7 linked regions of the Homo sapiens genome follow. The protein of the gene in region 6 interacts with the protein of the main gene of each other region in a pairwise test. Each region holds a gene or a part of one and is shown on either strand. Other genes may lie near its edges. The genes, in order: BEND7, LMO3, NME7, SULT2A1, PTPA, NIF3L1 and FXR2.

Region 1 (4,465 bases), on a different chromosome or scaffold from region 6:
GAGATGAGTGGATTGCTTGAGGCCAGGAGTTCGAGACCAGCCTGGCCAACATGGCGAAACCCCATCACTACTAAAAAATACAAAAATTAGCCGGGCGTGGTAGCGCATGCATGTAGTCCCAGCTACTTGGGGGGCTGAGGCATGAGAAGCGCTTGAGCCTGGGAGGCAGGGGTTGCAGTGAACCAAGATCATACCAGTGCACTCCAGCCTGTGCAGCAGAGCGAGACCCTGTCTCAAAAAAAAAAAAAAAAAAAAAAGAAAAAGAAATATATTACATATAACTGTGACTACTTTGGTATTTCATTGGGATTATTTATAATTTTAAAGTTGTAACATTACAATTTTGCTACAATTTTGAATGTAAATAATTGTACCACTACAATCACTAAGTTATCCTGAAGTATTTCATGGTTTTGCTCTGGTGAATTTTTCTATAGTATTCCTAAATAATGCATATTACAGGATTTAAGGTATATAAAGTATAATAAAACATATAATTGGAACAAAACCATGGAACTTACCTTGCTGGCCTGTGAGACAATGTGAGCGCTGGAAGTCTCTAAACTGCTCCATTTTATGGTGGTCAGGTGAACAGGTGCTGGAGGGAACCCACTGTAAGAGCAATGTCCAAATGTCCCATTTTATTCTAAGGACAATAGAAGATACTTGCTTACCTATGAGAGAAACAGAATAAGATAGGTTTACCAAGGAAAAGGCATTAAATTTAAACAGTGCAAAAGAGGCTGTGGCAAGGGAAAGATAAGACATGGGAATGGAGAAAAGAGGTAGAGAGATTTTCTTTGTGAAGCTGAAGAAAAGCCAGCCAGCCCACCAATACCCTCGAACGCATCCAATTCGAATATATCCTCCCATCCCTGCTCCTCTGTGCTTCCCCACCCCAAACGCCACACCCAGAGAGTATTCTAAAAGTTTTCATGTGTGCACAGTTCTTTGTTTTTGAAATAATGTGCTTAATATCAAAACTATTTTCAATAGAACTCATATAATTTTTAATATGAACTCTTAAACACAGCTACCAAATTTTTTTTGCAAGGCTGTCCTCAGGGCTCCTTTTTTGTGTGAACTAGCATGAGTGTGTTTCGAGTGAGTTTTTGAGGTGTTGTTATTTGAGATGAACAGCTCTGACAATAGGGAGGCCTGCTGTGCCCACTCATTGTGTGTGTGTGTGCATGCGGGCTCCCGCACCGCGCCACAGCACGCACGTTACAGTATGGAAGCCTGGATAATTAGATAAAGTCAGACCCCCAGATTTAGGTTGTGATAATTAGTGGGTACGTTTTCCTTAGGCACAGCTTCATCATAATTGCACATGCTTCAAAATCCTGCCAAGATACTTTCTTTTTTCTCTCCACCTCTTTATGATTTTTTTTTTTTTTTTTGGTTTGTTTGGAGTATGTCATTCTTTTCTTTCATGCTCAGGAGAACTTCCAGTGGTGAATTCATCAGCTGGATCAAACTGCTGTACTTGTAACTGCCAGTCAACGTTGCAGGCCATTCTACAAGAACTCAAGACCATGAGGAAATTAATGCAAATTCAAGCAGGTACAAGGATCAGGCCTCGGAATGAGTCCTTTGATTTTTAATGCATATCTGACATCTTCCGTTGGAATGTTCATTGTGCTTTTATTAAAGCCTTCTTCTCACCTTGCTGTCTTGCTGTGCCTTTTCAAGTATCTGTTTTTTCAGCTTTCTCTACAATCCATTTTTCCTTTAGCAAATCAAACATATTTTGTCTTGCTACTGATACAGCTCATATAATTATGTGTATGTACTCGATAGACTTCATTCCATGATCTCCTAGTACTTCACAAATGTCAGTTAATTAAATTTGGGAACAACTGTGTATGGAGGGGTCCTTTAGGAAGCATGGGCTTCAGTGTTCAAGCACTAAGCAGATAAGAAATGTGGAGCCCCAGGCTATGCTTTGTGGCTTTTCTCTCTCCTATTCAGGATGCGGAAGCTCAGAAATCCGCCGTGTTCTGTCGTCTTTGTTTATGTGACTCCTTTTTGTTTTCACTGCCATCAGGCAAGTTGAGGGACGGAAGAGCAGTGGATTTGTAATTTGGGATTGGATGCCAATTTCTGCTTTTGGAGCTGTGTGGCGCATCTGAGCTTCCTATTTCACGTCTGTAAATGGAGAATTCATATCTAACTCACAGGGCTGTTGTCAAAATAGAATGATGTAGTAGCTGTCAATGAACTTTATAAGGCATGGTACAAGCCTAAGCTGTTTCATTAGTGTGGTCTTAAAGTCCATGAAGCGTTCTATAGAAGTCTGGAAGTCTACGTCTTCATTATAGCAGCTGTATTTTCTGATCTTCACAATTGAGGGAAAACAGAATTGTTTTTGTCACAGGTACAAGAAATAAATCATTGTATTAAGTTTTCCCTCTTGTCAAGGGACATCACCACTTGATCTAAGCCATGTCGTGACTGGCTTTCCTGCCCTTTCATCAGGATGGTAGTCCGGAAGGTCGTCACTCAGAAGCTGTTCAGGATGCCATTTAGTGAATTCTAGTATAATTTTAATATTCAGTGATGTGGTTTTGATATAAAAAGCTTAATTAATACTTAGATATATCAGTCACCCAAGATCACATTAAAGTAATGTGAGCTACTTTCTGAAAAACAGCATCTTTTTATTTGAGATGGAGTTTCACTCTTGTTGCCCAGGCTGGAGTGCAATGGCATGATCTCGGCTCACCGAAACCTCTACCTCCCAGGTTCAAGCGATTCTCCTGCCTCAGCCTCCCTAGTAGCTGGGATTACAGGCATGTGCCACCACGCCTGGCTAATTTTTGTATTTTTAGTAGAGATGGGGTTTCTCCATGTTGGTCAGGCTGGTCTCAAACTCCCGACCTCAGGTGATCTGCCCGCCTCAGCCTCCCAAAGTGCTGGGATTACAGGCGTGAGCCACCGCGCCGGGCTAAACAGCATCTTTTTAAGCACTGAATTTGGTTTTACCCCAAGGAAGTATTTTGCTCAGGTCAGTAAGCATTGGACTCACCTTGTTCCACTACGATAATCTGTGTTCTTATTAACCTGGAGGAGGTTAACATCTCCTAAATAAGGAGCTCAGAAAGAAAGGTTACTTTATGATGTTCGGATTCTTTTCTCCGAGGAGGAATTTGTTAGCACTTAAGAAAATATGCATATGAAATTGTAATGATTTGTTTTGTCACTTAAGCTCCTTACTACTGAAATGGCAAACTACAAATTGCAACCATTTAAATCCTTGACGGAAGCCTTTTTAGAATCTATTAAGTAAATGCCACTTTGTCGCTATGTTTTCTTTTCTGAACCTTTGCAGATTAGGGAGGTAAACGATTCCAAAGCTGTAGGATGGCACAAAGGATAAACTGAATAAATTACTCTCCTTTAATTTTCTTAAACTTAAAAATTTGTGTCATGTGGGTAGATTTACTTAAGGTTTAATGCCTGAAGACTTAGATTTAAATTACATTTAGAAAGTTTCACCTTTCTTTTAAGAAGACAGGGAATAAGACCTAGAGGTAAGATCTGGATGCCAGAGACTTGGGCTGTGTCTAGATTTGCAAAAGGAGAAGAAAAACTCAGATAGTCCCCGTGTTCCTTAAACCAAAACATTTTCATTTCTAATTGAGAATCATGAGGCTTAGCAAGGCCTGGGGCCTAGACCATCGTGATCATTATTCGAGGTCCCTTTGATTCTGAGGGTGCAGACCCAGCCTTGAGGGGGAATGCAGAGAGACCAAAGAGAAGTTCCCAACTCTGGCTGCACAGCAGAATCACTGGAAGAGCTTTCAGACAATGCTGTTTCCCAGGCAGCATGCCTGGAGGTGTCAGTTCACTTCGTCTGGGGTGGGGCTGAGGCATTTCAGTTTTTTTGTTTGTTTGTTTTTGTTTTTGTTTTGAGACATAGTCTCACTCTGTCGCCAGGCTGGAGTGCAGTGGCGTAATCTCGGCTCACTGCAACCTCCGCCTCCTGGGTTCAAGTGATTCTCCTGCCTCAGCCTCTCAAGTAGCTGGGACTACAGGTGCCCACCACCATGCCCAGCTAATTTTTGTATTTTTAGTAGAGACGGGGTTTCACCATGTTGGCCAGGATGGTCTCGATCTCTTGACCTCGTGATCCGCCCACCTCGGCCTCCCAAAGTGCTGGGATTACAGGGGTGAGCCACCATGCCTGGCCCGGCATCTCAGTTTTTTTAAACTCAAGTGATTCTAATGTACAACCAAGGTTGAGAACCATTGAGCTAGACTAATTACTGGTTTAAAAACTTCTGTGCTCTTATGTAGTGCAATTAGTTTGCTTCTAATATTTATGAATTGCTTTTGAATTTGGAGACAAAAATATCAGGATCAAAGTGTAAATATTCTTTATTTTCAGACTGATAAGAGGTAAGAGGAGGTGATTCATGTTTATATGCCTTTAAAGACCTTTAGTTTTCACTTGTCTTATAGG
Region 2 (4,465 bases), on a different chromosome or scaffold from region 6:
AGAAGTATATGAAACAAGTGTAAATAGTAAATCATCCTTATAAAATATAGTGCTTAGTTTTAAGCAGGTTATCAAAAGCCTATGCTAAGAAGCCTCCACTGGTAACATCCCTTTTAAGAAATAAAAATGTTAGCCTAGCCATCTTCTTTCCCTAATGTTAGTGACTGACAATTATGATTAATTTCTATCTTACAACACTTAGCTAGGGAGCTCCAATCCATATTTCTAGTGTCTATACTTTCCTATTCCACATCTTCAGTTAACTGTAAGTTAGAGATTTCTATACTATACTGTTTTCAATAAGAAGTCCGGGTTGTGTACTCATTCCTCCACTATACACCTGTGAACAAATTTACTGTCTTTCCCACTGACAGTCCGGTTGTCATTATACATCTCACTGCTAACAACCCTTAGTGTATCAAATGACACTACCCACACCCCAAATCTTGCTATACATTATTCAAAGTTTACCTTACTTTAAGTCCACTATATCTATTCACATTTATATGCTCTTAGTCAGAAAATAAAATACCTCTCTTGAAATGGGCCTGACTCCGGAGAGGGAGACCAGATTCGCTCCGCCTCCCGGGTTCCCGCCATTCTCCTGCCTCAGCCTCCCCAGTAGCTCTGACTACAGGCGCCCGCCACCTCGACCGGCTCATTTTTTTGTATTTTTTAGTAGAGACGGGGTTTCACCGTGTTAGCCAGGATGGTCTCGATCTCCCAACCTCGTGATCCGCCCGCCCGCCTCGGCCTCCCAAAGTGCTGGGATTACCGGCATTAGCCACCGCGCCCGGCCAGGTTTAAATCTTGAGTCTACCACTTTCTTCTAACTGTAATCTTGGGCAAGTTACTTACATTTCCTATACTTTACTTTCCTCATCTGTCAAATGAAGCTAATAACTACCTATTTATGGGATATTTTGAGTATTAAACGAATGAGTACATGTAAAACACTCAGAACGGTGTTTGGTGTTTGACTAATACTTTATCAGAATTTGCTATCATTATTATTTGGTAATGATAATCTTTTCACCTTTACTTAAGTTGTTCCCTAGCAAGAAATATTTCTCCCCTTTTTCTGTCTACTTAAATTGTAACAATCCTTGAGTTCCCATTGCCTCCATCAACATCTTCTGACCATGTAAATTTGCTTATTCTGATGTTTCCCAAAGCACTTATTTATTGGTGTATTGTTTATTTTGGTGTTTCAAAATTTCTCATGAATGTGTAACTGGTTTGCCATTATAGTCAGCAGTTCTGCGGTAAATGACCACGAGTTATATTTCTTTTGAACCCTTTGCAGAACCATCATAAACTGTACTACCACTTAAGGTGTGTGGTCAATAAAAATTGGTTAAGGTAGATTTATTCCAGAAACCAACAGCTTTAAATAACAAATGTATTTTAGATGACTAATTTAAATTTGTATTCATTTTGACTTTTATTTAATGGCTTTTCAAAGACTAAGTTTACAATTTCATTTCCTCTAGGTGCTTGCTCTCTTTCTACTCCTCCATGTGCCTACCAAACCGCTTCTCTAATCTCTGAACATACTGAGCCGCTTTTCATTTCCTAAACACGTCAAATGCTTTCACATCTGCATGCCTTTGCACGTTGCTCAATTTGCCTGAAAATTCCTTTCCTCACTGCTCCCTGGCTCCCTCATCTTCCCCAACCCCGAGCAGACACACTTCCTGTAAGTCAACCAGTTCTAGGGAGTTCTTTTTTCAAGACCCAGCATATCAGGCCTTTGATGCTTCCCTAACACTTCAAGAAGGATGGCTCTCTCTTCCCTCAGTATAGCTCTATTTAGCATCGATTACACTCTTCTGTGAGTCTTTGATGTCCTGTCTCTCCCGTAGCTCCGGACACCTCTAAGAAATAAACCAGATTTTATCCACCTCAGCTTCCACAGAGCCTAGCACAGTGCTTTATTCTTAAAAAAAAGAAAATTAATTAATTGTTACATAATTTTACATATTTGGGAAAATTTCATCACAAGCTTTTTATTTTTCCTTTTCTTACAAAACTATCATTTAGTTTTATTGTGTTTTCTAAGGAGAAGGGGCTTATTCACCTTTAAGAAATTAACCTGTTATATAGAATCTTCCAATTCTGAATGAGATTCAAGATATCATAAAATAAGCTTAAATAACCCTCCTGCGGTACCTTTTAAAATAGAGAAACTAGCCGAATTTTAATGCAGGATTCACGTTTTAGCTATACGCCTCTAAAAGGGGCAGAGGAGATCTATATATAAGGGACAATCAATCCTGAAAGGTTATTATTACTGCTACTTTTTAAAACATTCAGAAATGCTTTGGATCTTAATGATACTTTGATTTAAAGGTAAAGATGAAATGACTGCTGAATACAATTCACAAACGCGTAATTCCACAACTTTAGACGTCAATAAAGTTTGCTTAAGAGAAAATGCCTATGAATTACCTATTTGCCTTGTGTTTCACTTGAAAAGTGCAATATTGCGACAATGATTTGGCTACTGGAAGTGGGATATGGGTTTCCTGGAGGAGACTGAAGCAAACTTCAGAGTAAAAGGAGAATCTCCTATATGAAAACCTTCTGTATCCTGGGTAACAAAATTTGTCTGCTTTGCTTGACTGATGAAGATTAGCTGACTTCCCGCATTAGTTTGTCTTGTAGGGGCTGAAGTGACAAGACAATAACTAAGTGCTAATTGTGCATAACCGGCACTAAAGATATGCAGTCCCATTATGGCATGTAATAAATGAAGCGAACACAGAAATATATTAGGTACTTTAATAATGATACTAGAATAGTATTTCGCAGCAATAAGAATGTGAACAGTTTTAGAGTCAAAATTTAGGAGTGTTTGTCTTACTTGACTGAGTTCTCCTGAGGAGACAGACTTAATTGTGAATGCAACTTTTTATTTCAATGGTGAAATAAAATAGATATATGATTTGTAAATAGCATTAACAACCTACAATTACTTTGCATCATAATAGAATTTAGGCTGGGTTTAGCACTTGAATGTTTTTATTTTCTATGTAGAACATGGATAAAATAGGTAACCCTACTTAATAGAAGAAAATGGACAAAGGACATAAACTGCCTACTTCTCTAAAAGAAGGAATACCAAAGGACCACCAGGGATCAAATAAATGCCAGTTAGAAATTATAATGAAATACTATCTTTCATCCCTTAAGGTGGCAAGGATTTTTTTTTTTTTTTTTTAAACGTAATTCCTAGTGTTTTAGAATGAATGTGAGGGAATGCGTAGTTTTGTAGATTTCTGCTAGGAGAATAATTGGTATAACTTTCCTGGAGATCATTAAGCAATGTACAGCATATGCCTTCAAACTGTTATATACCTTGTTTAAGTAATCATGCTCTGTGAATTTAACCAGATAGAGATATGAGCATTTGTTTTTATACAATCTGAATATCTACATTTAGCAAGAAACTCTATTGTGATATATGTCTTGTGGGAAAGTCAAGTTAGTGGACTATTATTTGGTAAATTATAAAAATAACTAACTTTTGAGAACCAGTTGTGTTCCTGACATTTAACATAAATTATTTTATTGAAGTTTCAGACTCTGCAAGAGAGGTATTAGTGTTTCTATTTTGTAGGTGTGGGAATCAAATTCAGAGAGATTAAGTAACATACTCAAGATCACACAGTTAATATATCAGCTACTATATGGTGGTGCTGAAATCTGAATCTCTTCTCACTATAAATGTCACATTCTTTCTACTATTCTACAGGGTCTCATAAGGTCCATTTTTATATTGATAATACTGATAATATTTACAGCACAAAAACTTTTGAAGATACAACTTATATATCTGATGATAGAAGACATATGTGAAGCTCTGTCCATAAAGCTGAACTCAGAAAAGCTTAAAATATCTTAAAAGAATTTTTAATGGCAGGTAAAAAAGGCACAAAATATAAATTGAGTGAAAAAGTCCAAATATCAAACATTAGGATTCTCCCTTGTAACTTTAATTTGCTTAAATGTGAGTGTAATATTTATACAATGTCATTTGTCCTATAGACATAGGAACATGTATGGCTGGCTATATATCAAAATATTAAAATGTTTTCTTTTAGAAGAATGAGACATGGGACAATGTCTTGTTTTTATCATTTTCTATTTTCTAAATTTCCTACTATGAATATGTAATCTTTTATAAGTAGAAAAGCAATGACTTTATGATTCCATAATGGGAACTGCATGGTTACTGGCTGCTATTAGTTGATCAACATGACAAGTCAACAAAAGTATTCTAAATTTACTACTAAGACACCTTTAAAATGTATAAAATACATATATACATGCACATAAAGGTGTCTGTATGGATGTGGGAATGTTTGTGTTTGTATATCCTTATCCCTACCAAAAACATGTGCATTTGCCAATTTATTTTCGTCTAAATGTTACCCTAGACTGAATGAACTTACTTTGATTC
Region 3 (4,465 bases), on a different chromosome or scaffold from region 6:
GTGGTATTTGGTTTTCTGTTCTGCGTTAATTTGCTTAGGATAATGGCCTCCATCTCCATTCATGTTGTTGCAGAGACCATGATTTCATTCTTTTTTATTGCAGCATGGTATTCCATGGTGTATATGTACCACATTTTTTTTATCCAGTTCACCACTGATGGGCGCCTGGGTTGATTCCATGTCTTTGCTATTTTGTATAGTGCTGCAATGAACAGGCAAGTGCATGTATCTTTTTGGTAGAAAGGTTTGTTTTCTTTTGGATATATAGCAGTAATGGGATTTAAGGTTCAAATGGTAGTTCTGTTTTAAGTCCTTTGAAAAAACTCCAAACTATTTTCTACAGTGGTTGAGGTACTAATTTGCATTTCCATCAACAGTGTATAAGTGTGTTCCCTTTCTCTACAGACTTGCCAGCATATCTGTCGTTTTTTGACTTTTTTTTTAAAAAAAAATCAACTTCTATTTTAGATACAGGGGGTACACATGCAGATTTGTTACGTGGGAATATTGTGTGATGCTGAGGTTTGGAGTATGGATCCCATCATCCAGGTAGTGAGTATAGTACCCAATAGGTAGTTTTTCAAACCACCTGCCTTCTCTCCTCTAGTAGTCCACAGTGTCTATTACCCCCAAATTTGTGTCTATGTGTGTTTAATGTTTAGCTCCTACTTGTAAGTGCGAACATGCAGCATTTGGTTTTCTGTTTGTGGATTAATTTGTTTAGGATTATGGCCTCCAATTGTGTCCATATTATTGCCAAGGACATAATTTTATTTTTTTATGGCTGTGTAGAATTCTGTGTTATATATATATACCACATTTTCTTTATCCAATCTGCCACTGATGGGCACTTGAGTTATTTCCATGTATTTGCTATTGTGAATAGCACAGCAATGAGTGTATGAGGGCATGTGTCTTTTTGGCAGAATTTCTTTTCTTTTGGGTATATACCCAGTAATGGAATTGCTAGGTTAAATGGTAGCTCTGTTTTAAGTTCTTTGAGAAATATCCACACTGCTTTCCACAATGGCTGGAGTAATTAATATTCCCACCAACCGTGTATAAGCATTCTCTTTCCTCTATAGTCTTGCCAGCATGTTATTTTTTGACTTTTTAATAATAACCATTCTGACTGGTGTGAAATGGTATCTCATTGTGGTTTTGATTTGCATTTCTCCGATGATTAGTGATATTGAGCGTTTTTTCGTATGCTTATTGGCTGCTTGTATGTTCTTTTGAGAAGTGTGTATTTATGTCTTTTGCTCTTTTTTTAGTGGGGTTGTTTCATGCTTGTTTGATTATTTAAGGTCGTTACAGATTCTGCATATTAGTCCTTTGTTGAATGCATAGTTTGTGAATATTTTCTCTCATTCTGTGGATTGTCTTTTTACTCTGTTGCTAGTGCAGAAGCTTTCTGTGCAGAAGCTCTTTAGTCCCACTCGTCAATTTTTGTTTTCGTTGCCATTACTTTTGAGGACTTAGTCATAAATTCTTTCCCCAGGCCAATGTCCAGAATGGTGTTTCCTAGGTTTTCTTCTAGGATTCTTATAGTTTGAGGTCTTACTTTTAAATCTTTAATCCATCTTGAGTAAAGTTTTGTATATGGTTAATGTTAAGGGGCCAGTTTCTTTCTTCTGCTTATGGCTAGACAGGTATCCCAGCACCATTTATTGAATAGAGAATCCTTTCTCCATTGCTTATTTTTGTTGACTTTGTCAAAGTTCAGATGGCTGTAGATGTGTGGCTTTATTTCTGGGTTCTCTATTATGTTCCAGTGATCTATGTGTCTGTTTTTGTACCAGTACCATGATGTTTTGGTTACTGTAGCCTGTTGTACTTTTAAACTATTTTGGTAGTCTTGTATACATAAAGCAATGTTCATGGAACCTTTCTATTTTAACTAGTTTGATATATATTTTGTTCCTTGACATAGAACAGATAATATATGTTACACTTTATGTATTCTAAATATTTGACATGTAATTAAATTTAAGTGAATATTTTGCATGCTCATATTATTATTACTGTTGCCAAAGACTGTTTACACTTCTAATAAGAAAGAATGTTACATCAGCCAAACTAAATGGCCACAGTAGACATGTTATTTGATATCCTGCACTGAGTAGTGGGTTTTTAAAAAAATTTGTATGTAAGAAAATTATTATGCTATAGATTATTTCAAATCAAGTGTTATAAAATATTCCTAAGCCTTCTTAGAATAGCTATATACACTTTTCTAGAAAATTGGTGGAAATTATCTTTTGGTATAAACTTTGTATATGTTTATAGCATTAACTTACAACTCCTAGTCTAATGATTTATGTGTGATTTGCATGCAGTAAATTTTATTAAAGGAATGAATTAACTAGTTGCCTGTTAATGAGAATGATGTAACAAAAGACTAGGTGAAGTAATTAAATTTTCATGAAGCAGTATCTATGATCAGGCACATCCTTCCCTATATTGTTACATGCCATATTCATAGGCTTATTCAATTGTGTGTTTTGAGAATTTTGTATTAATAGGGCGTTAGATTGTAAGTGTCTTGAAGGGGGATCTTTTTTGTGGCACAGACGCTGATATGTTATAGGCAATTATTAAATGCTTATTGAGTGAATAAACATGGTTTGCTCCTTTGATTTGGGTTTTTTTAAATCTAGTGGTTGGTCTTGGGGGTTTTGTTTGTTTTGGCAGCAAAGGTCTGGCAGAAAATGTATGAGGAGGTATTATAGAACTCTTAGGATAGAAGACAAGAATACTTTTTTGTACATGCTGTTTTTTAGAAATATTCTTCAAAATGAATGGGAGTGTTTTAAAAAGGAAGTACTGAGGGGAGCTGACATATAACATGCAGGGTGGAAGGAAGTGTGTAAAAAATAGTCATAAGTTAGTGGGCACAAAAGAGCCTGTCACACCATGCTCCTTTCTCCAGGAGGATCTCTTCTCTCTACTTTGGATGAGAGAAAACCATGGGCTTACTCTAAAAAGTACTGTGTCCCTGCTTAATATAGTCAGAGGGAGGATGTCACTTATTTCATAGTTAAACTTGTCATTGCATCCTGTACACATATAAAAGTAGAAAATAAAATGAAGTATTGTCTTTTATACCTTGGGGGACTGTGACTCAGTGCTGGATTTTTAGTCAAGAACCGATGCGTACACTTTAATAATTTAATACAGAAATAACCCAGAGTAGTTTTTACGCTAATAAAAGGATATTTCTTGAAGCCTGCTGGGGATTTTTTTTTTTATCACCAAACCAGCTCAGTGTTTATTGATTAAGAGAGTTCTTTGTCAGTCTTTGAATTCTAATAGTTTTACACAAAAATAAATAAATTCTTACTAAAAATATGTTACAAGGCATCCATCCCTATATATTGTGAAATTGTACTTGACTGCAGTGGTAAACACATGTAAATAAAAAGGAAAATCCTCTGTACCTGTTAGAGCACTGGGAAAAGCATAGGTCAACAGTATGCATTTTAAGTCATGAAATAGTCTTAATTCAACAGAACAGTGATTTTTCTGGTAACAGTAATTTGACATTACTAGTGATTTGAAGTGAATTGAGCCACTGCAAGACACTCAATTTATGAAAAATTTCTCCTGCCCATGTAAAATTAACTATGCTTAATGGTTCTAAGATTATAATATTCATGTCTATGTTGAAATAATCCAATTTAAATATATCCTGTCGTTAAGACAAATACCTAGTTGACAGAAAAAAGAAGCAAACTAATCTTCTATCTGTTTTGTAGTGAGCTGATCCAGTTTATTACAACTGGTCCTATTATTGCCATGGAGATTTTAAGAGATGATGCTATATGTGAATGGAAAAGACTGCTGGGACCTGCAAACTCTGGAGTGGCACGCACAGATGCTTCTGAAAGCATTAGAGCCCTCTTTGGAACAGATGGCATAAGAAATGCAGCGCATGGCCCTGATTCTTTTGCTTCTGCGGCCAGAGTAAGGTGTTTTAAAAATATTTTAATGCTCTTCTAGTTCTGTTAAATGTTTTATATCAAAGGAAAGCATTTCTATCACTGGTGACTTAGGGTGGATTTATGCTGCTGCTCTAGTAGTAGAGAAAACCTTTGACATCTTGCCTACTATCAAACAGTGATTCAGTGTGTCTCCTTTGTGAACTGGTAACCTGATCATGATCAACGTAAGTTTTCTCCAATTAAAACACTTCTCATCCTGTTTCTTGTTCCCAAGACTTAAATTACTGAGGCTCCTAAATGTTTGAATTATTGAATTCATGTAAGAATACCAGTTTATGGCTAGTAGATATTAAAAAGAAGATATAATTTGAGATATTTCCTTTTGATTCAGACGTAACACTGTGCTTTCAAGCTTAACATCCTATTATTTTCCTATATATAGCTAGTGTTTATGAAAGTTTCTCTACTCCTTATTTTTAAATCCATATAAATAAAGCATTTATTGGATTTATACTGAGGTT
Region 4 (4,140 bases), on a different chromosome or scaffold from region 6:
GTATTTTTAGTAGAGACAGGGTTTCACCATGTTGGCCAGGCTGGTCTCAAACTCCTGAGCTCAAGTGATCCACCTACCTTGGCCTCTCAAAGTGCTGGGATCATAGGCGTGAGCCACCTTACCCGGCCTTCTTGTTGTGGTTTTAATTTATATTTCTCTAGAGGCAAATGATGCAAAACATCGTTTCATGTGCTGATTTGCCATCCCTGTGTCCTCTTTGGTGAAATGTTTGTTCAAATCTTTTATTCTTTTTTTTCTTTTAAAAGATTATTTGTTTAATGCTGGGTTTTAGGAGTTCTTTATGTATTCTAGAAACAAGTCCATTGCCAGATATGAGATTTACAAGTACTTCCTCTCCATCTCTGGTTTGTCTTCTTGTTTTCTCATTTTGTTTTGAGATGGAGTCTCACTTTGTTGCCCAGGCTGGAATGTAGTGGCACAATCTCGGCTCACTGCAACCTCCGCCAACACATCTGGCTAATTTTTCTATTTTTAGTAGAGACAGGGTTTTACCATGTTGGCCAGACTTGTCTTGAACTCCTGAGCTCAAGTGATCCACCTGCCTCGGCCTCCGAAAGTGCTGGGATTACAGGCATGAGCCACCGCACCTGGCCTATCTTTTCATTCTCTTTATAGGTTCTTTGGTTCTTTTGCGGAACAAGACTTTAGTTTTTTTATTTTTTATTTTTGAGATGGAGTCTCCCTCTGTTGCCCAGGCTGGAGTGCAATGGTATGATCTCAGCTCACTGCAACCTCCATCTCCTAGGTTCAAGCAATTCTCATGCCTCAGCCTCCCGAGTAGCTGGGATTACAGACATGTGCCATCATGCCCAGCTAATTTTTGTATTTTTAGTAGAGACAGAGTTTCACTATGTTGGCCAGGCTGGTCTCAAACTCCTGACCTCAAGTGATCCGCCCTCCTTGGCCTCCCAAAGTGCTGGGATTACAGGTGTGAGCCACCGCACCTGGCCTTATGAAAGTTTTAGAAGCCTCCATAAACACCGTTTATTGTATATGGTTTAACAACACAGAGTAAGAGGATAAAATTAGATTGCAAATTACACTCCTTAAGATCAGAGCAATAATAAATTGTGGAGATACATGTGATGAAAAGAAATGGAACCTTAATTGCTCCTGTAATTTTATTTCTTATTTTTATTACTAATTTTTGCTCTAAAATCTGTCACTGTAGCTATTTCTTATTTTTATTAACAAACATTTAGACATCCTTTTAGGTAGTACGTACATTATTCTTGTAGCATTCTGTAAACGGGAAACATTGCAAACATTTAAAAAAGTCTGGGATCCCATGACTCAACTCACTGCAACCTTTGCATCCCTGGGCTTTGAACCCTGGTTCTCTGAACCCTAGTCACTTCTTTCTTTTTGAGACGGTCTCGCTCTGTCACCCAGGCTGGAGTGCAGTGGCGCGATCTTGGCTCATTGCAACCTCTGCCTCCTGAGTTCAAACGATTCTCCTACCTCAGCCTCCCGAGTAGCTGGGACTATAGGCGTGCACCACCATGCCCGGCTAATTTTTGTATTTTTAGTAGAGATAGGGTTTCATCATGTTGGCCAGGATGGTCTCGATCTCCTGACCCCGTGATCCTCCCCCACCCCCCCGACCTCCCAAAGTGCTGGGATTACAGACATGAGCCAATGCGCCTGGCTAATTTTTTTTGGTTTTTGTATTTTTAGTAGAGATGGGGTTTCACCGTGTTAGCCAGGATGGTCTCAGTCTCCTGACCTCGTGATCCGCCCGTCTCGGCCTCCCATAGTGCTGGGATTACAGGCATGAACCACCGTGCCTGGCCAACCCTGGTAACTTTTAACAAGGAAGGGATCAGAGATGCAGAGGTTTGATATTTAAGGTTTCAGGATAAAATAATAAGTCTTACACAATGACCCCAGTCAGGTACATGTACAAGGACAGGAGAATCAATGTCATTCTCCATATAAGATCCAGAGTGTTTTGGACGTTATTCCCATGGGAACAGCTCTCGAGGAAGATCTGCCATCTTCTCTTGGAACAATTTATCAAAGTCTTCAGCTTGGGCCACTGTGAAGTGATTTTTCCAGTCCCCAGATACACCTGGAAACAAGAAGCAGAAACTCAGGTCAGACCACACATCTCCTTGACCTGTCTCCACCAGGCACCTGACATGGACATTGTAGCTAACATAGCAGAATGGCCGATGGTTCGTGGTGGGCCTTTATCCTGCCTGGTCACATAGTTATTCACCTAGCTGGAAACAATTTCCTATTTTCTCCTTTCTCCCATCCATCCTGTGTACAATTCCTCAGCAATAACGCCAGTATATCATCTGATATGTCCAGAATCAAGTCACGTCTCACCACCTCTGTTTCTACCACGTTGACTCAAGCCAACATCATTTTTCACCTGGATTATTAGAGTACACTTGTAACTGGTCTCTGCTTTTTTTTCTTTTTTTTTTTGTAGAGACGGAGTCTTGCTCTATCCCTCAGGCTGGAGTGCAGTAGCGCGATCTTGGCTCACTGCAACCTCTGCCTCCCGAGTTCAAGCAGTTCTCGTGCCTCAGCCTCCCGAATAGCTGGGATTACAGGTGCCTACCACCACGCCTGGCTAATTTTTGTATTTTTAGTAGAGATGGGGTTTTGCCATGTTGGCCAGGCTGGTCTCAAACTTCTGACCTCAGGTGATCCGCCCGCCTTGGCCTCCCAAAGTGCTGGGATTACAGGCGTGAGCCACCACACCCGGCCTGGCCTCTGCTTTCATAAGTTCTCTTTCATAAGTTAGTCTCAGCATGGCAGCCCTCATGATCCCAGATCATGCCACTTCTCTGCTCAGATTTTCCGAGGACTCTAGGTTTCACTCAAGTACAAGTGCTGGAGGCGCTTACAGGGCTCCAGGTGATCCAGCCCCTGTGGCTTCTCTGAGCTCATCCCCTAAAACTACCCTCTCCGTCACTCTACTCACACGGGGACTTCTGATTCTGCCTCAAACGTGGCAGGCATCCCCACTCCTCAGACTATTGGCGTCCCACGCTCCTTCTCCTTGGAACGCTGCTCTCTCAGATTGGCCCATGACTTGCCTATTTGCCTCTTTCAAGTCTTTATTCCAATTCAAGTTTCTCAGCGAGGTTCTCTCTCACCACCCAATTTAGAGGTCACTCCCCATCCTTGCTGTATTTCGCCTCATAACACATATCATGTAGGACAGGTTCTGTGTATTTTCTTTCTGTGGTGTATGTGTATGGTATGTATCCCTAATATAGATAAGTTATACAAAGTCTCAGCATTTATCTTTTTTTTTTTTTTTGAGATGGAGTCTTGCTCTGTCTCCCAGGCAGGAGTACAGTGTTGTAATCTCGGCTCACTGCAACCTCTGCCTCCTGGGTTCAAGCGATTCTCATGTCTCAGCCCCACCCCAAGTAGCTGGGACTACAGGTGGGCGCCACCACACATGGCTAATTTTTGTATTTTTAGTAGAAACAGAGTTTCACCATGTTGCCCAGGCTGGTCTCGAACTCCTGAGCTCAAGTGATACACTTGCCTTGGTCTCTCAAAGTGCTGGGATTACAGGCGTGAGCCACCGTACCCGGCCAACGTTTACTTTTACGATTGCCCAAGACTCTGGGTCTTTTGAAGGATTTAATTCTTTTCTTCCACGGAGGACTGTCCCAGATGTATTAGAACTGTAGGATTTTGGAAAAATGGATTTTTGTTTTGAGCCGGAGTTTCACTCTTGTTGCCCAGGCTGGAGTGCAAATGGCAGGATCTCGGCTCACTGCAGCCTCCTCCTCCCAGGTTCAAGTGATTCTCCTGCCTCAGCCTCCCGAGTAGCTGGGATTACAGGCGCCCACCACCACACTTGGCTAATTTTTTGTATTTTTAGTAGAGATGGGCTTTCTCCGTGTTAGCCAGGCTGGTCTTGAACTCCTGACCTCAGGTGATCCACCCGCCTTGGCCTCCCAAAGTGCTGGGATTACAAGCATGAGCCACCACGCCTGGCCCTGGAAAAATGGATTCTTTCACCCCATGCAATAGACATTTCCATTCATCTTGGCACCTTACAGCGTGTGATAGCAAAGTCTCTCTTCTCTCCCTTTTCCAGGTGAGGCATTCCTTCACACATTTCTTCATCCAGGACAGATCTCT
Region 5 (4,465 bases), on a different chromosome or scaffold from region 6:
TGCCTCTCCTGCCACCTAGTGGCTACTTTGAGATTTCCTCTACTGGAGGAACTGGGTCCCAAACTTTGGAAAAGCTTTTGGGGTGTTTATACCAACAAAATCAACCAACCAACTAAAGACAAAATTTTACCATGGAATCAATTCCCAAAATCCTGGAGGCCAGGCCTGGCATGCCTCCTAGTTAGAATACCGACAGGGACCCAGAGGCCTGGCCAGCCGCCGGGGGAGCCCAAACAGCTCAGCCTTTCAGCCACACCCAAGAACTCAGTGTGGCATCTGCACCCTTCTTCCCACCCTGCTCCTCCAGCTTATCCTGAGGTCCCCCAGGGCTCCGCAGACCCCCACATTCCACTCCACAGAGAGCAGCGCGTGACTGGCTTTCAAGGCAGTGAGCCAGGCTGCCCCCAAGTCCTCCCGACCTTGGGCCTGCCACACTGCTGAGGGCAGCAGATCTCCGGGAATGAAGTGGTGGCCGCCCAGCCGTCAGTCCCGGCTCCATTTGCTGACTTGGAAAAAATGTGTCATTCCCCTCTGGCCTCTGGAGTTTGGCAGAAGCCTGAGCCGAATGTTGACCAGGAAGAGCCTGGAGCCAAGGCTGCTGGTTATAACCCAGCTTTCTCCACCTCGTCGGGGGCTCAGAATACACAGCCCGGACGGAGAGCAGCCCCCGTGGCCAGCATCCACAGGCCTGCTAGGAACCTCACTGAGGCAGCAGACATCCGTGCTGGTGTCGGGAAAGGGACTGAGGAGGGATAGAACTCTCAAACCCTCTCCAGATAGCTGAGCGAGGGCGCCCTTTGGAAACTGGGGCATGGGGATGGCAGAGAGGATGAGAAGTCCTAACACCTCCCTCAAGAGAGGTCCAGAGAGCAGAGGGTCCCCAGCTTTCCTGTGCAGTCGCCTGGCACGTGTGTTTAGATGCAGGTTCCTGGCTCTTGTCCCCTAAGATTCTGATGCAATAAGCTGGGATGGAGGGCCCAGGAATGTGCGTTTTAACAAACACACTAGGAGATCTCGCACAAGTGGTCCAGGGCCCACTGCAAGGAATCCTGCCTTGGTGAGACAATAACTTCCAGTTCCAGAACCCAGCCGTGGGGCTGGCTATCCAGTGACTGCCACCACAGGCCAGGCCTGCGCACTCCCACTCCAGCACTTTGCTCGGGCCCACGTCCTCAGGCACTGACAGAGACGTGTCCCTTCGACAGAAAAGCTGTCTGCACCAGAAGTTCGCTCCATCTCCTCTGGTGGTTTCATTTTACACATCCACAGCACATGGTTCTACAGACCCTTGTGGGGCCCCACCGAAAGATGCTGACCCTCCCCCACAAACCTCCGCCCGCCCCGACCCTTTCAGACCTGCTGCAGCAGTCACCAAGGCCAGTTAGTGACCAAGTCTTAGACCCTCATCTCAAGACTCCTGTGGTGTTCAGGAGAAACTGAAGGAGAACTGGGCGGAGGACCTGACAGTCAGCAGCGGCTCTTTCGGAAGAGGCCCAGTGGTGCTTCCTTTTCAATAACCCGCTCCGGCCGGCCCTGCCATTTTGGGCAGCAGCTCTGGCTCTTCTGATCCACTGTAAGGCCACCAGCCTTGGTTCATCTGAGCCTGGAGGCAGCCATGGGCTTCTCTCTCACCCCTCCTCCTCACCTCGGTAATAAACAGGATACACTCCAGGAACATGTAGTCCTTGTGGTTCTCATTCACGGCCTTCTCATCCACAAAGTGTCTGGGCTCCAGGTATGGGTGGTCTGGGAAAAGGAATGGGCCCCAGCATTCAGAACCAGGCCCCACGACTACCTGGGCAACCCGGCCCAGCAGTCACACCCCCCCAGGGGCCTCAGTCCTGCCCGTGGTGCCCTCAACACCTCACCTTGAAGGAGCAATAAGTAACTCTGGGTTTGTGTATTCTAATGTGCTAAGCTCTAGCTGCATGGCGTTGGACGCATGACTTCAGCCTGCCAAGGTTCAGTTTCCTCACCTGGACACTGGGGACAAGAAGAGCACCTCCTCCTAGGGGCCATGACAACAATTACCACACCTACAGCACTCAGTATGGTGCCTGGTGCAGGTGCCAGTCAGCAGAGCCGGCTTCATGCTGGCAGACCCTTCGCAGTGTCACTGAGAAGATTCGGGGAGGCAATGCACCCGAGGCCACAACTAATGGTCATTTATGAATATCAGTCTGTAGGCAGTTCATTCTTCATCAAAATAGAGATGATCACCTACGCCCATCCTGAAAACTAGCTTCAAGAGTTGGGGAGTCACCAGAGCAGGCCTCTCTGAGCCCCACAGGAAGCAGGCCCACCACCCAGCACTTGGCGGCTGCTCCCTAACGGGCCCCTTTGCACACAGCTCGATAATAACAGTGGATGACACTGGTCACCAAATCAAAAGGGTCCCTCATTTTCAACATAAAACCCCACAGCTGCTGCCAGGAGCTGGGGCGCATTTCACACCAGTCCATTATGCACCAGGCGTGCGCCCTTGCTCCAGCCCATGTCACTTCCCATTATCTTGGTGGCGCTTGGCCTCCGCCTCCTCCAGCCCACCACACGGGCTCTCACAGCAGAAGGTCGACAGTAAACAGCCTCCCTCAATAGCTGGTCTAATGCCCTGCTTTCCAAGCTGTCACTGTCTGCCCTGGGCAGGAAGAAGGGAAGGAGGGAGCGCAGGAGGGGCAGGGGAGGGCCACAGAACGCAGCCTTGGTTGGGGGTGGAGGGATAGGCACCTCCCGCTCTAGTACCTATCAGCTGCGAACTGCCCCAGATGAAGGGCAGAAACTGGAAGTCATCCAGACCCCACACTCCCTGGCTGCCGGCTGGCTCCATCCTGTATGTTTTCTGGAGTTTCCGCATAACCTCAAGGTACCTGCACAGGAGGACAGGGAAAGGGAAGGTAGCAAAAAGTAAAAAGACAGTCTCACCCTTTCGGCCACTGGGAGCACAAGGAGACCCCAAAATAACCACTGAAGAGTGTTAACTGGTCTCAATTTCAATAATGTAGCTTTATTTCCCCCAACAAACACTCAGCCATCTTTTGGCTCAGGAAAGGCATAAAAATCACTGATTAAGGGCCCGGGCACGGTGGCTCACGCCTGTAATCCCAGCACTTTGGGAGGCCGAGGCAGGCGGATCACAAGGTCAGGAGATCGAGACCATCCTGGCCAACACGGTGAAACCCCGTCTCTACTAAAAATCCAAAAAATCAGCCAGGTGTGGTGGTGGGCGCCTGTGGTCCCAGCTACTCTGGAGGCTGAGGCAGGAGAATGGCATGAACCCAGGAGGCAGAGCTTGCAGTGAGCCGAGATCTCTCCACTGCACTCCAGCCTGGGCGACAGAGCAAGACCCTGTCTCAAAAAAAATAAACAAATAAATAAATAAAAAATCACTGATTAGGAAGGTGGGTTTTGGTGCCATCAACTCCTGACAACTTGTAAAACCCTGGGCAGGGCCTCAGCCTCTCCAGCCTCAGTTGGCCTGTCTGAAAGCTAACACAAGTCCCAGCAGGTTATCTCCTAGGTTCTTCTGGTTCCAACCTTCTATATTATCAGAGGCTGCATATCAACCACCTGTGAAGCATCGAGCACTGCTCCTGGGCTCCGTCACAGGCCTGCTGCAGCAGCACTGCTAGACTGGGGCCCGCAATGGGGATTTTAAGAGCTCTGGGTAACTGATCCACATCAGTGCTGCCCAGCGACTGGCTTGGGTGGTGTGGGGCAGCAGGTCAGAGTCTGACTACCTGGGTTCAGCTGGCGTGAACCCAGTGAAGACACCGGATATCTCTGTGCCTCAGTTTCCTCATATGTAAAATGGAAATAACAGTTGCTATTTCATAGGGTTGTTGTTAGAATTAATGAGTTATACATAAAGTGCTTAGAATTCTTCCTCCATATGGTCAACACTGTGTCAATACTGGCAGACATTATGTGACAATTCTTTTTTTTTTTAAGACAGAGTCTCACTCTGTCACCCAGGCTGGAGTACAGTGGCACGATCTCAGCTCACTGCAACCTCCGCCTCCTGGGTTCAAGCAATTCTTCTGCCTCAGCCTCCTGAGTAGCTGGAATTACAGGCGAGTGCCACCACGCCCAGCTAATTCTTGTATTTTTAGTAGAGACGGGGTTTCATCATGTTGGCCAGGCTGGTGTCGAACACCTGACCTCGTGATCCGCCTGCCTGGGCCTCCCAAAGTCCTGGGATTACAGGCGTGAGCCACCGCGCCCGGCCTATGTGACAATTCTTTCACTTGCTTTTACTTGGAGGTTAATTTGAACCTGTTGGAAAAAAGGCTTGGACACTCCATCCACAGCCAGAGCTTGATTAGGACAGGACAAGAGAACCATGAGCTACTCAGGAGAACCCTAGAGCACCCCATTTCCCAGTTTGAGGAGGAAACAGATGGCCCCTCACGCCCCCTCCTCCAACCCTCCTGTCCTTTCTCTCACCGATTGAACACCTTGAAGACAA
Region 6 (4,465 bases):
TCTAACAGTATAATTGAGGTATAATTGATATACTTAGGTATATTGAGGTATACCTTATTGAGGTATAATTGATATACTAAGAATTGTACATATTTGATGTGTACAATTTGATGAATATCATTACTTTGCATTTTTCTTCAGCAAATTCATTTGTAAATTATTAGATCAACAGGCCATTCACTGTTATCTAAAGTACAAAATGGCAATGAGAGCATAATATTCTCTAGGAAGTAATTGAGAAAGGGAGACATTCCAGGAACAGGAAAATATTGGTACGTCTTCAGGGTTACAGATTTGGTTACAGGTTTGCTGTCTCCTTATTTTACACGCTCTGCCTGGACCATGTCATTCACTTCTTTAACTTGATAGCCATTTGTATGATGATTTCTATCTTTACTTTTTGGCTTAGAATGCTTTCTTAAGGGAAAAAATGACAAGAACCCATATTTTCATCTACTTTCTGGATGTTTTGCACTTACAGAGCCCACAAGTATTTCAAATTCAGTATATCCAAATACTTTATCCGTTTGCCACCCCCGCTTTTTTTTTTTTCCATATTTCATATTTCAGTATCATTATCTACTTTAGTTTCCAAGTTTTCACATTCCTCCTTGACTCCAGGCCCTGCTGAGTCTGGCCTCATATCTATACAGTGTTTCTCCTCTGTATTGGCTCTGCCACCACAGTAGTTGAAACTCTCATTTTCTGCGATGAGAGTAGTCTCACCGAGCACCTAGGAGGCAGTCCAGGCTCTTTAGCATGGTGTTGGAAGCCCTTAATGATCTGCTACAGCCTGGGCCTCCAGCCTCCTCTCCTTCCACAGCATGTACTCTGCACAGTAGCCATACTGTCTTCTTTTGGATCTGCCCCCATAGTGTGTTCTCTCAAGTTTTTGGCACCTTTGTCCATGTCCTCTGTGTTTAGAATGCCTTTCTCCATCTCATCGTACCTCTGTCCTGCCACACTGCACTTGACATCACCCCTTTTTAAACTCTTTATTTCCCCCTTTTTAACTCTTTTAGGGTTTTCTCTAAGACCTAAGTCCTTCCTCCAAGTACTCCCCAAGCCTCCTAAGTCACAGCTCATTTAGTTTGTCATTCTTTGTGCTGCTGCAACTGTAGCACCTACCTTGTATTTAAACAGTTTTATTATTTTGTTTATTTGAGACAGGGTCTGGCTCTGTCCCCAGGCTAGAGTGCAGTGGTACAATCTCAGCTCACCACAACCTCTGTCTCCTGGGTAGCTCAAGCCCACCTCCCATTCAGCCTCCCAAGTAGCTGGGACTGCAGGCGCACGCCACTGCCTGGCTAATTTTTGGATTTTTTTGTGGAGATGAGGTCTCACTATGTTGCCCAGGCTGGTCTCAAACTCCCGAGCTCAAACAATCCACCCACCACAGCCTCCCAAAGTGCTAGGATTATAGGCATGAGCCATCGCGCCTGGCCTGATTATTGATTTAAACATCTGCCTTCCTAGAAAACTGTGAACTCCTAGAAGAATGATTTTGTCAGGTTTGTATCCCCACATTTAGCCTGGAGCTTGCTATAGTAATCTCACAGTGTGCATGTTGATGATTTTAGCATTTGTTGTTTTAGGACTAACAATGCACACCGTTTCTAACTTCTGTTTCTCCTCAGCCTTTGCTTCTACATACTGGAATGGGACGGTTATGCACACTGGATGAATCTGTCTCCCTGGCAACCATGATTGATCGAATAAAAAGACACCTAAAACTATCTCATATTCGCTTAGCCCTTGGGGTGGGGAGAACCTTAGGTAAATATAGCTCCTTCATCTATCCAGTATGCCTACTGTTAACATTGGACAAAGATCGAAACTCTTGGTTGTATTAATATGTGATAGAGAATGTGTTAGCAGCTCATAGGAGATAATTGGTTTACGTTATTGATTAGGGTGGGCCAGGTTCTGATGTGGAATACATCTCATTGACTTAATCAATGAGATTTATTTCTCTGTCATGCTATGTGTTCATTTCAAGTTGGTCATTGTAGGAAGTCTGACCATTGTAGACTGGTTGCTGTTGCAGAGGGAGGGAGTTTTGCAGGGTCTTAAACCATCAGTTTAAAATTCCAGGAAACATGTTAATTTCTGCTCAACTCATTTTCCAGAATTAGTCATGTTGCCCAATACAAGCAAGGGAGGCATAAAGTGCAGTCTTACCATGTGTCAGGAAGAGAGCTGGAATCATGATTGCTACAATTACAACATAAACTTTGCACTTATAAGACTGGTAATATTTTCTAGTGAGGTGCTACTGAGTGATCTGATCCATTGTAGTTTCTAAGTCTTGTAGTTTTTTCTTCTGGCCTTTCCTGGTACTTTTGAGAACAAAAAGAGTGAACAGACATTTGTTCAACACCTTCAGTGAGCCTAGCACTGTACTGATTGTCTGTCCTAAGTACGTGAGCTCCTGCTGGCAAAAGCAGTGGGGTACAGCGGTTATAGGTGTGGATTCTGAGCTTAGACAACCTGGCTTCAGATTTGTCTGTCCTGTTTGCTGCATGTCTTTGACAAGTTTATGCCCTCTGTGTCACAGTAGCCTCATCTGTAAAAACTGCATTAATAAAACCTAACTCAGAAGGTGGTAGTATAATCCATGTGACATGGCACAGTGATTGGCTCACATTAAGTATAAAGTGCTAGCTGTTGTTAGTTTTGTGGTTGGTACTATTTCTCCCATTTTATAGGTGAACAATTGTGGTTCAGAGAGATAAGTAACTTTATTAGTTCGTTCTCACGCTGCTATGAAGAAATACCTGAGACTAGGTAATTTATAAAGAAAAGAGGTTTAATTGACTCACAGTTCTGCATGGCTGGGGAGGCCACAGGAAACTTACAATCATGTTGGAAGGCACCTCTTCTCAGGGTGGCAGGAGAGAGAATGAGTGCAAGCAAGAGAAATGCCAGATGCTTATGAAACCATCAGATCTCGTGAGACTCACGCATTATCACAAGAACAGCATGGGGGAACTGCCCCCATGATCCAATTACCTCCACCTGGTCCCGCCCTTGACCCGTGGGAATTATGGGGATTATATTCAAGGTGAGATTTGGATGGGGACACAGAGCCAAACCATATCAGTAACTTATCTAAAAGTCCAGTTAGATCAAACAACCCAAGGGAGTTAGTGTCCAAAGAAAATGGATAGCAGAGGTGGGATTTGACTTCCAAAATAACTCCAAAGCCCCCTCTTTGAGATACCCTGCTGCTGAACTGGAGTGTCCACTAAAGTGTTCATTTTAGAAACCCAAGTGCTAAATACTTGGATTTTGGCTCGAAAGTTGCTGTTATTTCACTTTCCAGAGGATGCTTTTTGAGAATAAATAGTATATTTAAAAATAGTGCCAAATCCATTTGTAGCATTCCTCTTTTTATAGTCCTTTTAGTTCCTTAGCTTCCTCACCTGAGAATAGAGATAGTACTTGCTTACCTCTCACTGTTGTCTGAAGACCCAGGTGAGATTATTTTACCTAGCACTGTTGCAATACAGCCTAGAGCTGCACCATTAGTACTATTCAGTGGTTTGTGAGTTTGTGCAGCCATGTCCAAAGGAATAACGGTGCCCCCTTCAGCAGCACATATACTAAAAATTGGATGATATAGATTAGCATGGCCCCTATGCAAAGATTACACGCAAATTTGTGCATTGTTCCGTATTTTGCGCAATTTACAAAGGTTGTTGAAAAAAAAAAACACAACAAAGGAATAATAACCATGCCTTGGGTTAGCTATGCAATATCAAAGAATGACCTGTTTGCTTATATTAAAACATGTTTTTTTTAAAATGCAGTAAGAACAATTCATATACTGGTGATGAGACCAGGAGTGAAATCTGTATTATGTTTAGGATTCTTGGTACAAATTATAATAGTAAAATGAAAGGGAATTGTAAAGTATTGGTCTCTTGTTTCCTCTGTTTTGAAGAGTCTCAAGTCAAAGTCGTGGCCCTGTGTGCTGGTTCTGGGAGCAGCGTTCTGCAGGGTGTTGAGGCTGACCTTTACCTCACAGGTAGGACAGACTTTGGATCTCTCTTGGTTTATTTTTTGCAAAATCAAAAATGGCAAATTTTAGGACAGTACCTGGCACATAGATGATACCTAATTAATGTTTTCTGAACCTGAACTAAACAGAAACTACAACAGAACTGGGGACTTACTGCATTCTTTGTGGAGGGATGAAATCATTGAACAGTTTATTACATTATCTCAAAAGTTAATGGTCAGCATTTATTTTACCTACATTCTTCCTAAACTGTCCCAAACCTCTCAGATTTCACATCAGTGGGATACTTTCTACCCTGTCACCTTAGCTAGGAAATGGTTCCTTTTACTCAGCCTAAAGCCAATCATCAATTCCTATCAATTCAAGCTCCCAAATCTTTCTAGAATCTTCCCCCTTATCTCTATCCAGGCACCATCTCCTACTTGAAGTACAGCATCAACC
Region 7 (4,465 bases), on a different chromosome or scaffold from region 6:
GCCTGGTCAACATGGTGAAACCCCATCAATACTAAAAATACAAAAATGAGCTGGGTGTGGTGGCACAAGCCTGTAGTCCCAGCTACTCAGGAGGCTGAGGCGGGAGAATCGCTTGAACCCAGAAGGTGGATGTTGCAGTCAGCTGAGACTATACCATTACACTACAGCCTGGGTGACAAAGTGAGACTCCGTCTCAAAAAAAACCATTCAGCCAGGTGTGGTGGCTCACGCCTGTAATCCCAGCACTTTGGGAGGCTGAGGCGGGTGGATCACATGAGGCCAGGAGTTCGAGGCCAGCTTGGGCAACATGGCAAAACCCCATCTTACTAATAATACAAAACTTAGCCGGGTGTGGTGGCGCACGCCTGTAATCCCAGCTACTCAGAAGGCTGAGGCATGAGAATCGCTTAAACACAGGAGGCAGGGGTTGCAGTGAGCCGAGATCGTGTCATTGCACTCCAGCCTAGGCGACACAGCGAGACTCTGTCTCCCAAAAAAAAAAAAAAAAAATTGGCTAAAAGAAATTTGAAAATAATTGCACTATACCATGATAGAGCTCTGCCATCTGGAGGAGTCTGAGATAAAATAGCTGACCCAGGTTTAATTGCCCAGAAAAAGCCTTAGTCTTTGTTCTGTAAACACAAGATCATGGATGGAGGACAGGGTAGGAAGGGAGGAAGACAATACCCTTCAGCAGAAGGAAAAGGAGCTAAAAGTTACCTCTAGGTGCTTGGTAGCTTCTTCATTGCGGGACATAAGTAGCAGTTTGGTGCGCAGGCTTCGGAAATGCATATCACCCAGCAGAGATGCTCGCTTCACAGGGGCTTCTGTGGTTGACTGGGAGGAAACCAGTGGGAAAGTCATTAAAACTGGCTTGGAATAAACACTAAGGGAGAGCCAGGGACTAGAAATCAGGATGCCTAAGTCCCGGGAAAAGGGTTAAGAAATGAAGCTAGGAGACCGGGCGCGGTGGCTCATGCCTGCAATCCCAGGACTTTGGGAGGCCAAGGCAGGCGGATCACGAGGTCATGAGATCGAGACCATCCTGGCCAACGTGGTGAAACCCTGTCTTTACTAAAAATACAAAAATTAGCTGGGCGTGGTGGCACATGCCTATAATCCCAGCTACTCCAGAGGCTGAGGCAGGAGAATCGCTTGAACCCGGGAGTCGGAGGTTGCAGTGAGCCGAGACTGCGCCACTGCACTCTAGCCTGGTGACAGAACAATACTCTGTTTTCAAAAAAAAAAGAAATGAAGCTAGGAAGGAGGAGACTCATTGTCAGTCCCACAAAGGCTGACTATCAGGGTACTGAAGGAAAATGGTTTAGAGAGAAAGCAAGGAGCAAGCATAAGGTGAGAGCTACATACTCTATTTCTGAAAGTCCAAATATCAAGAGAGGGTCTCTAACCCAGATGGCAACATGATTATCAGGTTTAAAAAAAAAGGGTCAGAGGCCGGGCGTGGTGGCTCACGCCTGTGATCCCAGCACTTTGGGAGGCCAAGGCGGGCGGATCACGACGTCAGGAGTTCAAGACCAGCCTGACCAATATGGTGAAACCCTGTTTCTACTAAAAATACAAAAATTAGCCGGGCATGTCGGGCGCGGTGGCTCACGTCTGTAATCCCAGCACTTTGGGAGGCCGAGGCGGGTGGATCAGGAGATCAGCAGTTCAGGACCAGCCTGGCCAACATGGTGAAACCCTGTCTCTACTAAAAACACAAAAAAAAATTAGCCAGGCGCAATGGCAGGCGCCTGTAATCCCAGCTACTCGGGAGGCTGAGGCAGGAGAATCGCTTCAATCTGGGAGGTGGAGGTTGCAGTGAGCCGAGATCGCGCCACTGCACTCCAGCCTGGGCGACAGAGTGAGATTCCATCTCAAAAAAAAAAAAATTAGCCGGCGTGGTGACGCACACCTGTAATCCCAGCTACTCAGGAGGCTGAGGCAGGAGAATTGCTTGAACCCGGGAGGTGGAGGTTGCAGTGAGCCGAGATCGTGCCATTGTTCTCCAGCCTGGGTGACAAGAGTGAGACTTCGTCTCAAAAAAAAGAAAAAAAAAAGGTAGGGCTACCTGGGCCTGTAGGAGTCAGGAGCAATAAAGTCCTCTTGACAAATAAATATAAGCACATTTAAGCCCTTCTCTTTCTGCAAAAGGGTTAAAAAGGGAAAAAGAAAAAATGTTCAAAAGGCTTATGTGAAATTCAGGCAGAATAAACTCACCAGAATGAAGAGCTCACTGTTTGTGATGTTGAGAAAGATGCAGTTGGCTCCCAGGGCTTTCTTGAACTCTTTATGGACGTTTTCATTGGAGCAGCTGCAGAGGAAAAAAGTACTCAGCGGGCAGAATGCAGAGAGTACAGTGAAGAGTTCGGGGGAGGCTGGACATGGTGGTTTGCACCTGTAATCCTAGCACTTTGGGAGGCTAGGGCAGGATGATCACTTGAAGTCAGGAGTTCAAGACTAGCATGGGCAACATAGTGAGACCCTGTCTCTATTAAAAAAAAAAAAAAAAATTCAGAGAAGCAGGGCTGAGTAAATAAGAAAAGAAAAGGGACTGGGCCGGGTGCGGTGGCTCACGCCTGTAATCCCAGCACTTTGGGAGGCTGAGGCAGGCGGATCACTTGAGGTCAGGAGTTTGAGACCAGCCTGACCAACATGGAGAAACCCTGTCTCTACTAAAAATACAAAATTAGCCGGGTGTGGTGGTGCATGCCTGTAATCCCAGCTACTCGGGAGGCTGAGGCAGGAGAATCGCCTGAACCTAGGAGGTGGAGGTTGCGGTGAGCCGAGATTGTGCCACTGCACTCCAGCCTGGGCAACAAGAGCAAAACTCTGTCTCCAAAAAAAAAAAAAAAAGAAAGAAAGGAAAAGAAAAGAAGAGGGACCACAGTTAAAGAACAAGGATGGGAAAATAAAGAAACTAAGTGTCTTCTTAGCAAGAAGGGCTCTAGTAGAGGGCCAGGGGAACAACAGAGAAAACTGCAAAGTGGGAGTGATGCCTGGGAGAAATAAAGCCAGAGATTAGGGCTGTAAAGAGGGCCCTCATTCCCACCATCCTTAACACTCACGCTTCTCTCAGATCCTCGGGCACAGCCATGGTAACCTTGAAGAAGCTGCCTTTGGTTGCAAGGGGATTGGGATTAACTGGCCGAAGTCGCTCCAGGGTAACAATTTCATTGTAGGTGGCATCACAGGCAGCATATTCAATGACATAGAACTGGCACATGGTAAAAAAGGAGAAGTTGTGGATGACCTGAGCAACTTTCTATGAATAACATATTTGTTTCAGTAGTTCTCCAAAGGCATTCCCAGTCACTCACATCTCCCTTCATCATCCGCACCCGGGCCAGCCACCAGCCACAAGGTTCCTGTTCATTGGCTCGAGAATAAACCTAAAGAAAAGTAGAGAATCAAAGAGATATTGAAGACCACCCAAAAGCATCAAGAAAGGGATGAGGAGGCCGGGCATGGTGGGGCTCACACCTGTAATCTCAGCGCTTTGGGAGGCTGAGGCAAAAGGACTGCTTATGCCCAGGAGTTCAAGACCAGCTTGGGCAACATAAACAATAGAACAACCATTAAGATATTTGGGGCTGCTGGGCACAGTGGCTCAAGCTTATAATCCCAGCACTTTGGAAGGCCAAGGTGGGAGGATCTCTTGAGCTCAGGAGTTCAAGAACGATCTGGGCAACACAGTGAGACCCCACTTCCACGAAAAAAAAAGAGGCCAAGCGCGGTGGCTTATGCCCATAATCCCAGGACTTTGGCTGAGGTGGGCTGATCACCTGAAGTCAGGAGTTCAAGACCAGCCTGGCCAACATGGTAAAACCCCACCTCTACTAAAAATACAAAAATTAGCCGGGTGTGGTGCCACATGCCTGTACTCCAAGCTACACAGGAGGCTGAGGCAGGAGAATCACTTGAACCAGGAGGTGGAGGTTGCAGTGAGCTGAGACCGCGCCACTGCACTCCAGCTTGGGCAACAGAGTGAGACTTCATCTCAAAAAGAAAAAAAAGGTATTTGGGATGCATCTTTTTTTTTTTTTTTTTGAGACAGAGTTTCGCTCTTGGTGCTCAGGCTGGAGTGCAATGGCACAATCTCAGCTCACTGCAACCTCCACTTCCTGGGTTCAAGCGATTCTCCTGCCTCAGCCTCCCAAGTAGCTGGGATTATAGGCGCCCGCCACCACGCCCAGCTAATTTTTTGTATTTTTAGTAGAGATGGGGTTTCATCATGTTGGCCAGGCTGGTCTTGAACTCCTGACCTCAGGTGATCTGCCCCACTCGACCTCTCAAAGTGCTGGGATTTCAGGTGTGAGCCACTGCATCCAGCCTGGGATGTATCTTAAACCAAGGATACAAGAAACCAGAGGAAGGAACTAATTAAAATCAGAGGACGGCAGGGCATGGTGGCTCATGCCTGTAATCCCAGCACTTTGGGAAGCTGAGGCGGGTGGATCACCTG

What was found.
Region 1: the proteins of NIF3L1 (region 6) and BEND7 interact in binary tests that used the Homo sapiens proteins (3 or more experiments, as listed by UniProt).
Region 2: the proteins of NIF3L1 (region 6) and LMO3 interact in binary tests that used the Homo sapiens proteins (3 or more experiments, as listed by UniProt).
Region 3: the proteins of NIF3L1 (region 6) and NME7 interact in binary tests that used the Homo sapiens proteins (3 or more experiments, as listed by UniProt).
Region 4: the proteins of NIF3L1 (region 6) and SULT2A1 interact in binary tests that used the Homo sapiens proteins (3 or more experiments, as listed by UniProt).
Region 5: the proteins of NIF3L1 (region 6) and PTPA interact in binary tests that used the Homo sapiens proteins (3 or more experiments, as listed by UniProt).
Region 7: the proteins of NIF3L1 (region 6) and FXR2 interact in binary tests that used the Homo sapiens proteins (3 or more experiments, as listed by UniProt).

Annotation. Positions count from the first base shown.
Region 1 is NC_000010.11:13,493,864-13,498,328, reverse strand, and holds part of BEND7 (BEN domain-containing protein 7), read left to right. Parts: intron 1-1,440; coding exon 1,441-1,563; intron 1,564-4,465.
Region 2 is NC_000012.12:16,554,163-16,558,627, forward strand, and holds part of LMO3 (LIM domain only protein 3), read right to left. Parts: intron 1-4,465.
Region 3 is NC_000001.11:169,298,057-169,302,521, reverse strand, and holds part of NME7 (nucleoside diphosphate kinase homolog 7), read left to right. Parts: intron 1-3,758; coding exon 3,759-3,966; intron 3,967-4,465. UniProt on the Homo sapiens protein: Possesses an intrinsic kinase activity. Displays 3'-5' exonuclease activity with a preference for single-stranded DNA. Does not seem to have nucleoside diphosphate kinase activity.
Region 4 is NC_000019.10:47,869,476-47,873,615, forward strand, and holds the end of SULT2A1 (sulfotransferase 2A1), read right to left. Parts: intron 2,093-4,140; coding exon 1,980-2,092; 3' UTR 992-1,979; downstream 1-991. UniProt on the Homo sapiens protein: Sulfotransferase that utilizes 3'-phospho-5'-adenylyl sulfate (PAPS) as sulfonate donor to catalyze the sulfonation of steroids and bile acids in the liver and adrenal glands.
Region 5 is NC_000009.12:129,134,873-129,139,337, reverse strand, and holds part of PTPA (serine/threonine-protein phosphatase 2A activator), read right to left. Parts: coding exon 4,444-4,465; intron 2,868-4,443; coding exon 2,743-2,867; intron 1,747-2,742; coding exon 1,646-1,746; intron 1-1,645. UniProt on the Homo sapiens protein: PPIases accelerate the folding of proteins. It catalyzes the cis-trans isomerization of proline imidic peptide bonds in oligopeptides. Acts as a regulatory subunit for serine/threonine-protein phosphatase 2A (PP2A).
Region 6 is NC_000002.12:200,895,439-200,899,903, forward strand, and holds part of NIF3L1 (NIF3-like protein 1), read left to right. Parts: intron 1-1,637; coding exon 1,638-1,776; intron 1,777-3,946; coding exon 3,947-4,030; intron 4,031-4,465. UniProt on the Homo sapiens protein: May function as a transcriptional corepressor through its interaction with COPS2, negatively regulating the expression of genes involved in neuronal differentiation.
Region 7 is NC_000017.11:7,600,689-7,605,153, forward strand, and holds part of FXR2 (RNA-binding protein FXR2), read right to left. Parts: intron 3,393-4,465; coding exon 3,321-3,392; intron 3,218-3,320; coding exon 3,069-3,217; intron 2,315-3,068; coding exon 2,221-2,314; intron 838-2,220; coding exon 721-837; intron 1-720. UniProt on the Homo sapiens protein: mRNA-binding protein that acts as a regulator of mRNAs translation and/or stability, and which is required for adult hippocampal neurogenesis. Specifically binds to AU-rich elements (AREs) in the 3'-UTR of target mRNAs.